Linked DNA regions of Homo sapiens. The protein of the gene in region 1 interacts with the protein of each later gene in a pairwise test. Each region holds a gene or a part of one and is shown on either strand. Other genes may lie near its edges. The genes, in order: WDR7 and FRMD6.

What was found.
Region 2: the proteins of WDR7 (region 1) and FRMD6 interact in a two-hybrid assay, tested with the Homo sapiens proteins (one large-scale study listed by BioGRID).

What each region holds. Positions count from the first base shown.
Region 1 is NC_000018.10:56,689,294-56,693,120, forward strand, and holds part of WDR7 (WD repeat-containing protein 7), read left to right. Parts: intron 1-1,922; coding exon 1,923-2,068; intron 2,069-2,421; coding exon 2,422-2,524; intron 2,525-3,827.
Region 2 is NC_000014.9:51,658,212-51,662,038, forward strand, and holds part of FRMD6 (FERM domain-containing protein 6), read left to right. Parts: intron 1-3,827.

The DNA.
Region 1 (3,827 bases):
GCTGTCGCCCAGGCTGGAGTGCAATGGTGCAATCTCGGCTCACTGTAACCTCTGCCTCTCAGGTTCAAGGGATTCTCCTGCCTCAGCCTCCCAAGTAGCTGGGATCACAGGCATGGACCACCACGCCTGACCAATTTTTGTATTTTTAGTAGAGATGGGTTTCACCTTGTTGCTCAGGCTGGTCTTGAACTCCTGGCATCAAGTGGTCAGCTTGCCTTGGCCTCCCAAAGGGCTGGGATTATAGGCATGAGCCACCGTGCCTGGCCTATATGGTTTTGTCTTACATACCTTTGAATCTTTAATCTGGAATTTATTTTGTATAAATTGTGAGATATAGATCCAATTTTATTTTTATGTCAGATGGACCCCCCCAGTTCCTGATGCCATTTGTTGAATAATTCATTCGTCTGTTGTCCCTTGATAATATACTATATTCCTACATTATTGGAATCTGTTTTCAGACTTCTGGATTTGTCTGCCCATTCATGAATTAATACTATATTGTTCTAACTTTTATAGTTGTATGATTTGCTTTAACAGATAATAGGGCTGGAGGGCTAGTTTCCCTTCCTTACTCTTTCTTGGAGTTTTCTTGGCTATAATTGTAGTGCTGATGTTATACACTGATAAATATTATAAGAAATCATGGTAAATGCAGCTAGGATGTGTTCTAACTTCAAGGCTGTATACAAGCAACTTCATTGTTTTCTTTAAAGAAAAGTAAAATAAAACCTCTGATCTATTGAGGAATGAGGAATTACTCATTCCTCCTGGGAAAATTTTCTAACAACATTTAATGTACTTTTTTCAAATATTAAAAGTGATAGAATAATTCTGCTAGGAATTATAAGAGCAGAGTTTTTAGCTTTGGCTCTATCACTTACTGGACACATGACTTTGAGCAATTGATCAAATCTTTATTTGTGTCCATTTCTTGTCTGTAAACTGGAATAGTAACATCTGCGGTGATTCTCAGGGTCATATGAGATAATAATTGTAAAGGTACTTTGTAAACTTTGCAGTGCCTTGCAAATGTAAAGCCCTATAAGGTTAGTAGCCTTTACTGCTGGTGAAATTATAGGGATTTGAATTTTATATGTGAAAATTATTACATAGTAAAATTGAGCCTGTTAACTATAGTATTTTAGAACATTGATGAAATAATGTAGAGCAAAGTAACTCCCTTATAATAATGAGTTATTCCCATGCCAGAGTTTATTGTTAGAAATGTTGCTACTGGGCCAGGCAAGGTGGCTCATGCCTGTAATCCCAGCACTTTAGGAGGCCAGGGTGGGAGGATCACTTGAGCCCAGGAGTTCGAGACCAGCCTGGGCAACATGGTGAGACCCTGTCTCTACAAGAAATAAGAAATAAAAAAGTTAGCAGGGCATGGTGGCATGCTCTTACAGTCCCAGCTAGGCTGAGGTAGGAGAATCACTTGAGCCCAGGAGTTTGAGGTTGCAGTGAGCTCTGATTGTGCCACTGCACTTCAGCCTGGGTGGCAGAGCAAGACTTTGTCTCAAGAAAAAAAAAAAAATGCTGTTACTAGACATAGAAATAAAACAGGGCTCAAGCCTGTATATTTGAGGTTGATTCCCTATTATTTGCAATTCTTTAATGGAATACTTTCACTAGATAGAAAGTCTGAGGATAACTGTTCCTGTAGTGGGGAGCACCCTCGCTCCACTTGTCATAGCCTATTCCCTGTCCACAGGGAGGTTACCCATAACTAGGGGCCTAGTTGTGTCTTCCCTATTGAAGGTGACCTCTCCCAGGGCTTATTGACAAACTTTCTTTATCTGATGCAGCAAACTGAGTTTTCTAAATACATTTCCAGGCTTTTTTTTTAAACTTGAAATGTCACTGGATCTTACTTTTTACAACAATATGGAGTAGATTGTGAATTTCTTTCTTCCTTGCAGGTGTTCGATGCCGGAGACTATTCCTTGTTGTGTTCAGGTCCTAGTGAAAATGGACAGACATGGACCGGGGGGGACTTTGTCTCATCAGATAAAGTCATCATTTGGACAGAAAATGGGCAAAGTTATATTTACAAACTACCTGCCAGGTATGCAGCAAGTAATAAATTAGGACAGTCATCAAAAGTAAAAGATTCAGAATTTAGGGTACAACCTGACTTTAAGAAAATGTATGTATTATAAATATTTAACTTTGATAAAACACTTCAGAACTTCTTAAGTTAGATTTTTAATTCCAATTTAACTTCTAAGTGCAAAAATTAGGTGGATTTTTATTTGAAGGACAATATTTTTATAACATTATTTAATTTAATGCCTGCATTAAATTAACTATAATTTAAAAATCCCCTTTTTGTCCAATACCAACAAACCTTGTCATATGGAATTATAAAGTATTTAATGTCAGTATTTTAATTGAATATTGTATTTTTCCCATATTCAGTTGCCTTCCAGCTAGTGATTCATTCCGCAGTGATGTGGGGAAGGCAGTTGAAAATTTAATTCCTCCTGTACAACATATCCTCTTGGATCGAAAAGATAAAGAGGTAAAATTCTTGAGGTGTCATTTATAATTGAAAGTTACATTGAAAAACTTCTACAACTGTATTTATTGTCTTGTGATAGGTTTAAAAAATTTGATACAATTCAAAGCACTGTGTTAAATGTAAAACATTTTGAGATGGTCAGTTATAAGGACATTTCAAAATCTGCTTGTTTAAAAACATATAATATGCCTATGAAATAACATTCGTTTTTCTAAGAGTACAAGTGATCTTATGCTAATTGCGTATTGAAATTGACTTTTTGATGAAGTTCATATTGATGGTGTAAATTATTTTACATACTATCATGCAATTATAAACATAGTGACAGATATATTTTTAGAAGAGCACACATAGTTATGTAATAATGCTGAGTAATAATAGTTCCTTTGTTGAACAAGGCATTGCAATACCTCCACAAAATCATGTAGCATTTTAAATCATTAGAAACTAGAAATAAAGAATAAAACATTTTTTCTCTATAAAAATAAAAGTTTATTGTGATTTCTGAAAACGTGCTTAATATCCACTTAATGTTGAAGTACAACAGCACTTAGTACTGGGTTTTCAACTCTATATTGAGCAGTAAGAAAGAAGCTTTGGCTTTGAAAGCAGAGTTTTTTTTGTTTTTTTTTTTTTTAATTGATGTTCTAGGTTTCCATGGCTTTATCATTCTGAACATTACGTCTCACGTTTATGTGGCCGGGTGGCTAGGGGAAGGGAATTGTTCTTTCCATGAATATTTTGAATATATAGAATTTGTATATCTATGTACAATTAAGATCATCTTTAGCCTGTCTGTTCTTTATTCAAACTTCCACTTACTGCTCTTCAACCTAGATAGTCATGTCCAATTAACCTAAGGAATAATGACTTGTATAAAAAATATACATAAGCAAAACCAAAAAAAAAATCATTTTCTTTAAATATCAGCTCCCTAATACGTTTTAAATTAAAAATGTGTATTTTGTGGTGTGTTGAAATGTAGAATATTGGTTATTACAGCTGCTGTAGCAATTTTTCCTTGTTAAATATATAGTTTATCAATTAAAAATTTTAGTCTGGGCGACATAGTGAGACCCCATCTCTACAAAAAAAAAAATTAGCATGGTGTGGTGGTACACGCCTGTAGTCCCAGCTACTTGGGAGGCTGAAGTGGGAAGATCCTTTGAGCTGGGAGGTGGAGGCTGCAGTGAGCTGTGATCGTGCCACTGCACTCCAGCCTGGGCAACATGGCGAGACCCTGTCTCAAAAGCAAAAAAAATTCAGTAAGTAAAGTCAAACGATTGGTTATGCTTAATATGTG
Region 2 (3,827 bases), on another chromosome or scaffold:
AGATCTGCCCAGAGGAAATGGATCTGTAGCCCAATGAGGCAGAATTTTTCTTCTTTCAGCCTGCTGTACCTCTGCCCTCCATACAGAGCTCTGTTGGGGCTTGCCTTTTCCCTTTTTTCTCTCTCTCTCTCACTTCTAGGGCTTCCTAATGAGACTTTGGGTTGTAAGTATCAAGTAGGAGATCTCTTGAGGTCCCTCTTGATTCACTCTTGTTGATCCATAAATGATCTAGGATGGACCCTAATTTCAAAGGACTGCTTTGTCAATATTTTTGGAATAATTCATCCTTAAGAAAATGTTTCAAAAATTCAGTTTTTGGACTTCTCCTGCCTTTATGCTTCTCCCTCTTTTCTCCCTTTTTGTGTCTTCCTTCCACCCCCATCCAGTTATCGTTTCTTAAAGATCCCTGGAAACATCCAATCTTTGTCTACTGAGAGCAGCAGTGAAATTCTGACGCTAAAATCTGTGGCAGTCTCCAGGAAGTACTTATTGTAAAACATAAGATTATGATTTCACTGAGAGATCTAACAGATAAAACAAAGTGCTTGCAAAGGAAAACTATTCATGTATACATTTTATTTTATGTTTCCCTAAAGAATAAAGGACAGTTTTATTACTTAAGAAAAGACTCAGAGCTTCAGCTTAAGCTCATTAAAAAGGTGAAGAGAAGTTAAAATTAGAGAATTTTATAAATATGTGGTATTTATATATCCTACCCGAATAAGATACTGCTTATCACAGCAAAAATTTAGCATATGTAATGTTAACAAGTAAAAAATATGCTGACCATAGGGCCACAGCTCTGACAAGTTGCTCATGAAATTACTACAGAATAGCGTAATCCGTATTGAAGACAGCATAGAAGAGGGATAGTAAAATATAATGATAGGAATGAGGTCTTCGAGATCAGTTCCCTGGGGCCCAAATCCAGACTCCAGTATTCTCCCATGTGTAACCTTGGGGAAGTTACTTAACTCTCTACACCTCTTTTTCCTCATCAGTAAAGTGGGAGATAGTTATAATAGCTATCCCACAGGATTGTTCTTATTTTTAAGTGAAATGGTACGTGTAAAACAAATGGCATGGTCTTTGATATATAATAAACGTCTTACGTGATGTTAGCTATTGCTGCTTAAGACAAAAAGAAGTGATGTATAAAAGGACTTATAGTTTTATTGGAGGTTCCCAAGCCTTCATTTATAAGCATTTCATGAGATTTAACTTTGTTTTTTGATGGCATTAAGCAGGCAACAAAACCTAGTATTTCTCAGTTACAGATACTGGCAAGTCTGTGTTGCTGCAGTAGGAGCAGCTGGCCTGTTGCACTGATTACTAATTGATCGAGTTATTTTTCTTAATTCTCTTCTAATTTCCAGCCGTCTCAGTCCTTCAGCTTCTGTCTGCTAGATAACTGTTTCTTTCCATATGTCAAAAAAGCCAGCCTGCAGATTTTTAAAATTCTCCTTACGGTGACTGATGTTGTGCAAAGTTCTTTTAAAGAGTACCACTGACTGGCCCATGTCTTTTGCTCATGTTCCCTGTATGGCTTCATGTGAGTACTTCTGAAGAAAGCCACTATTATTGATATAAAGCAGTTCTTTATTCCCAACCCCTAACCATTGGCACAGTTTATATAATGTGGGTCAGAACCATTTGTGATTTTCTGTTATGAGGGCCAGAGTTTGAGATTTTAAACCATTCATTCAAAGAAACTTAAGAAAGACACAGTTAAACACCTTAGAAAGATACATTTTCATCTAACTAGCCTAATTACGAGCTCAGCTAAAAAAGGTACAGGATCCTCTAGAAGAATCGTGCTGTATCATTCTGATCTGTTTGTTAAAGGGCGGGGGACCTAGTCCAGATAACCCAGTTCCCCGTTTTGATTGTGTGTGTAAAATCTTGAGCTTAGTAAACTTAGCACTTTAAAAATGTTCACTAAGTCCATCAAAAGCCAGGTTTTATGTCTTTATGAAGTATTCAGGACTGTGCTGAATACTTTGTGCAATTTCTGTCAATGTGTTTCATGTCTAGTTGGGGGAACAAAATACATGTGTTTGAAAAGATATTAGATGTTTCCAGATGAGTGTGAAGTTGAGCTTTCGTTTTAGGGTCCAAAATCAAGGATGATCACATAGGATGTTCCCAGCCTTCCTGGGGCCACTGGATTTATACTGGTTAGTGAAGTCAGGCTAAGATTTTTCTATCCTTCAAGCCCATAGAAAAGGGGCTTTTCTAGTAGCAACAGAATGTGCAAGATCTGGTAAAAATCTCAAATATTAAAAGACAACTATGAAATTAAAATTATTAAATGTTTAAATTCATGCATTCAATATAATGTATGCCTAGGATATGCCAGGCACTGGTCTAGGTCTGAGAGATGTCAGTGAATAAAATAAAGGAAAAAAAAAAAAAAAAAATTCTGCCTTCGTGGACCTTATATTCTATTAGGAGGCAATCAGCATAAGAAAATAAGTGTTGTAGTATTTTGGAAGGTAATAAGCCTGATGGGAAAAAGAAAAAGTAGAGCAGGCTAAGGGACAGTAGGAGTGCTGGGGGAGGGAGGCAGGGACTTTGCGATTTGGTGGAGTATAGTCAAGGTAGGCCTCACTGAGAAGAGGGCTTGAAGGAGGAAGAGAGCCACACAGAGCTAGCTGGGGGAAAAGTGTTGCAGCAGAGGGACTAGTGAAGGCATCAGGCGGAAGCATGCCTGATGTGTTCCAGGAGCAGGGAGAAGGCCACAGTGGTGGAGCACTGAGAGCAGGGAGAGAAGGAGTAGTAGATAAGGTTAGAGATGTTTGGAGAGCACATGTTTGGCTTGTGTGGACTGTATTCAGGACTTGACTGTGAGTGGAATGGGGAGCCAGGTTTTGTGCAGAGGAGTGAGAGGATTTGATTTGCATTTTAATAGAATCACTGGTTGCTGTAGGAATCTGGAATTTAGGGAAGAGGTCTAAGTTGGAGATACAAATTTGGAAGTTGCCAACAGAATTTGGGTGAGATCACTTGGGGAATATGTGTAGTCAGAGAAACAGGCTTATGGACCAAGCCTTGGGGCATATCAGTATTTACAGTTTGTAGAGAGAAGAAGAAATCACACACATAATCCAAGAAGTGTTTTAAGCCAAAGTAATTATGCACGTTTTTCCAACATAGTGAACCCAATTAAGTGTCTCCATTCCTTGAGTAACAATGTTATCACTAGAAGATATTGTGAACTCTATTGATCTACACAATGGAAGAATGAACTATGAGTTGTTTTTCTAATTGCGTTGATGGTCTTGGGCTAAACCTGGATGCTTCATCTTTTAGAGGTTGTGTTGATAAGGAGGAATCAGTAAAAGAAAATTAAAAAGGAGCAAGCAGAGGATAGGAAGAAAATTAGAAAAATGTCCTTGTAGTCAAAGAAAATATCTCCAGCAGAAGAGTGGATCAGTTAGCTCACATGTTGCTGAGAAGTCAAGCAGGGTGAAGACTGAGAGTTGCTCATTGGATTTAGCAACCTGGGGAGTCATTGGTGATGATGACAAGAGCTGTGTCACTGGAGAAGTGGAGATGAAAACCTTATTGGAGTGGGTTCAAAGAGAATAAAAAATTTATGAAAGATAACTATTACTTGTAATTCAGTTTTGTATATTACAAATATTCAATATTGATGTGGGTACATTTTAATATGCCTGGTAGGATGTGCAGTGGGACTTTGGAAATGGGAATGTTGGAGGCCGTGCATATCTTCAGCAGGCTTTGTCAGGGTTAGGGAGCCTTTGAGCTTTTCCCTAGTTATTATTGGTAGGGGTAGGGCTCTAGTATATAGATTGTAGTTTGTA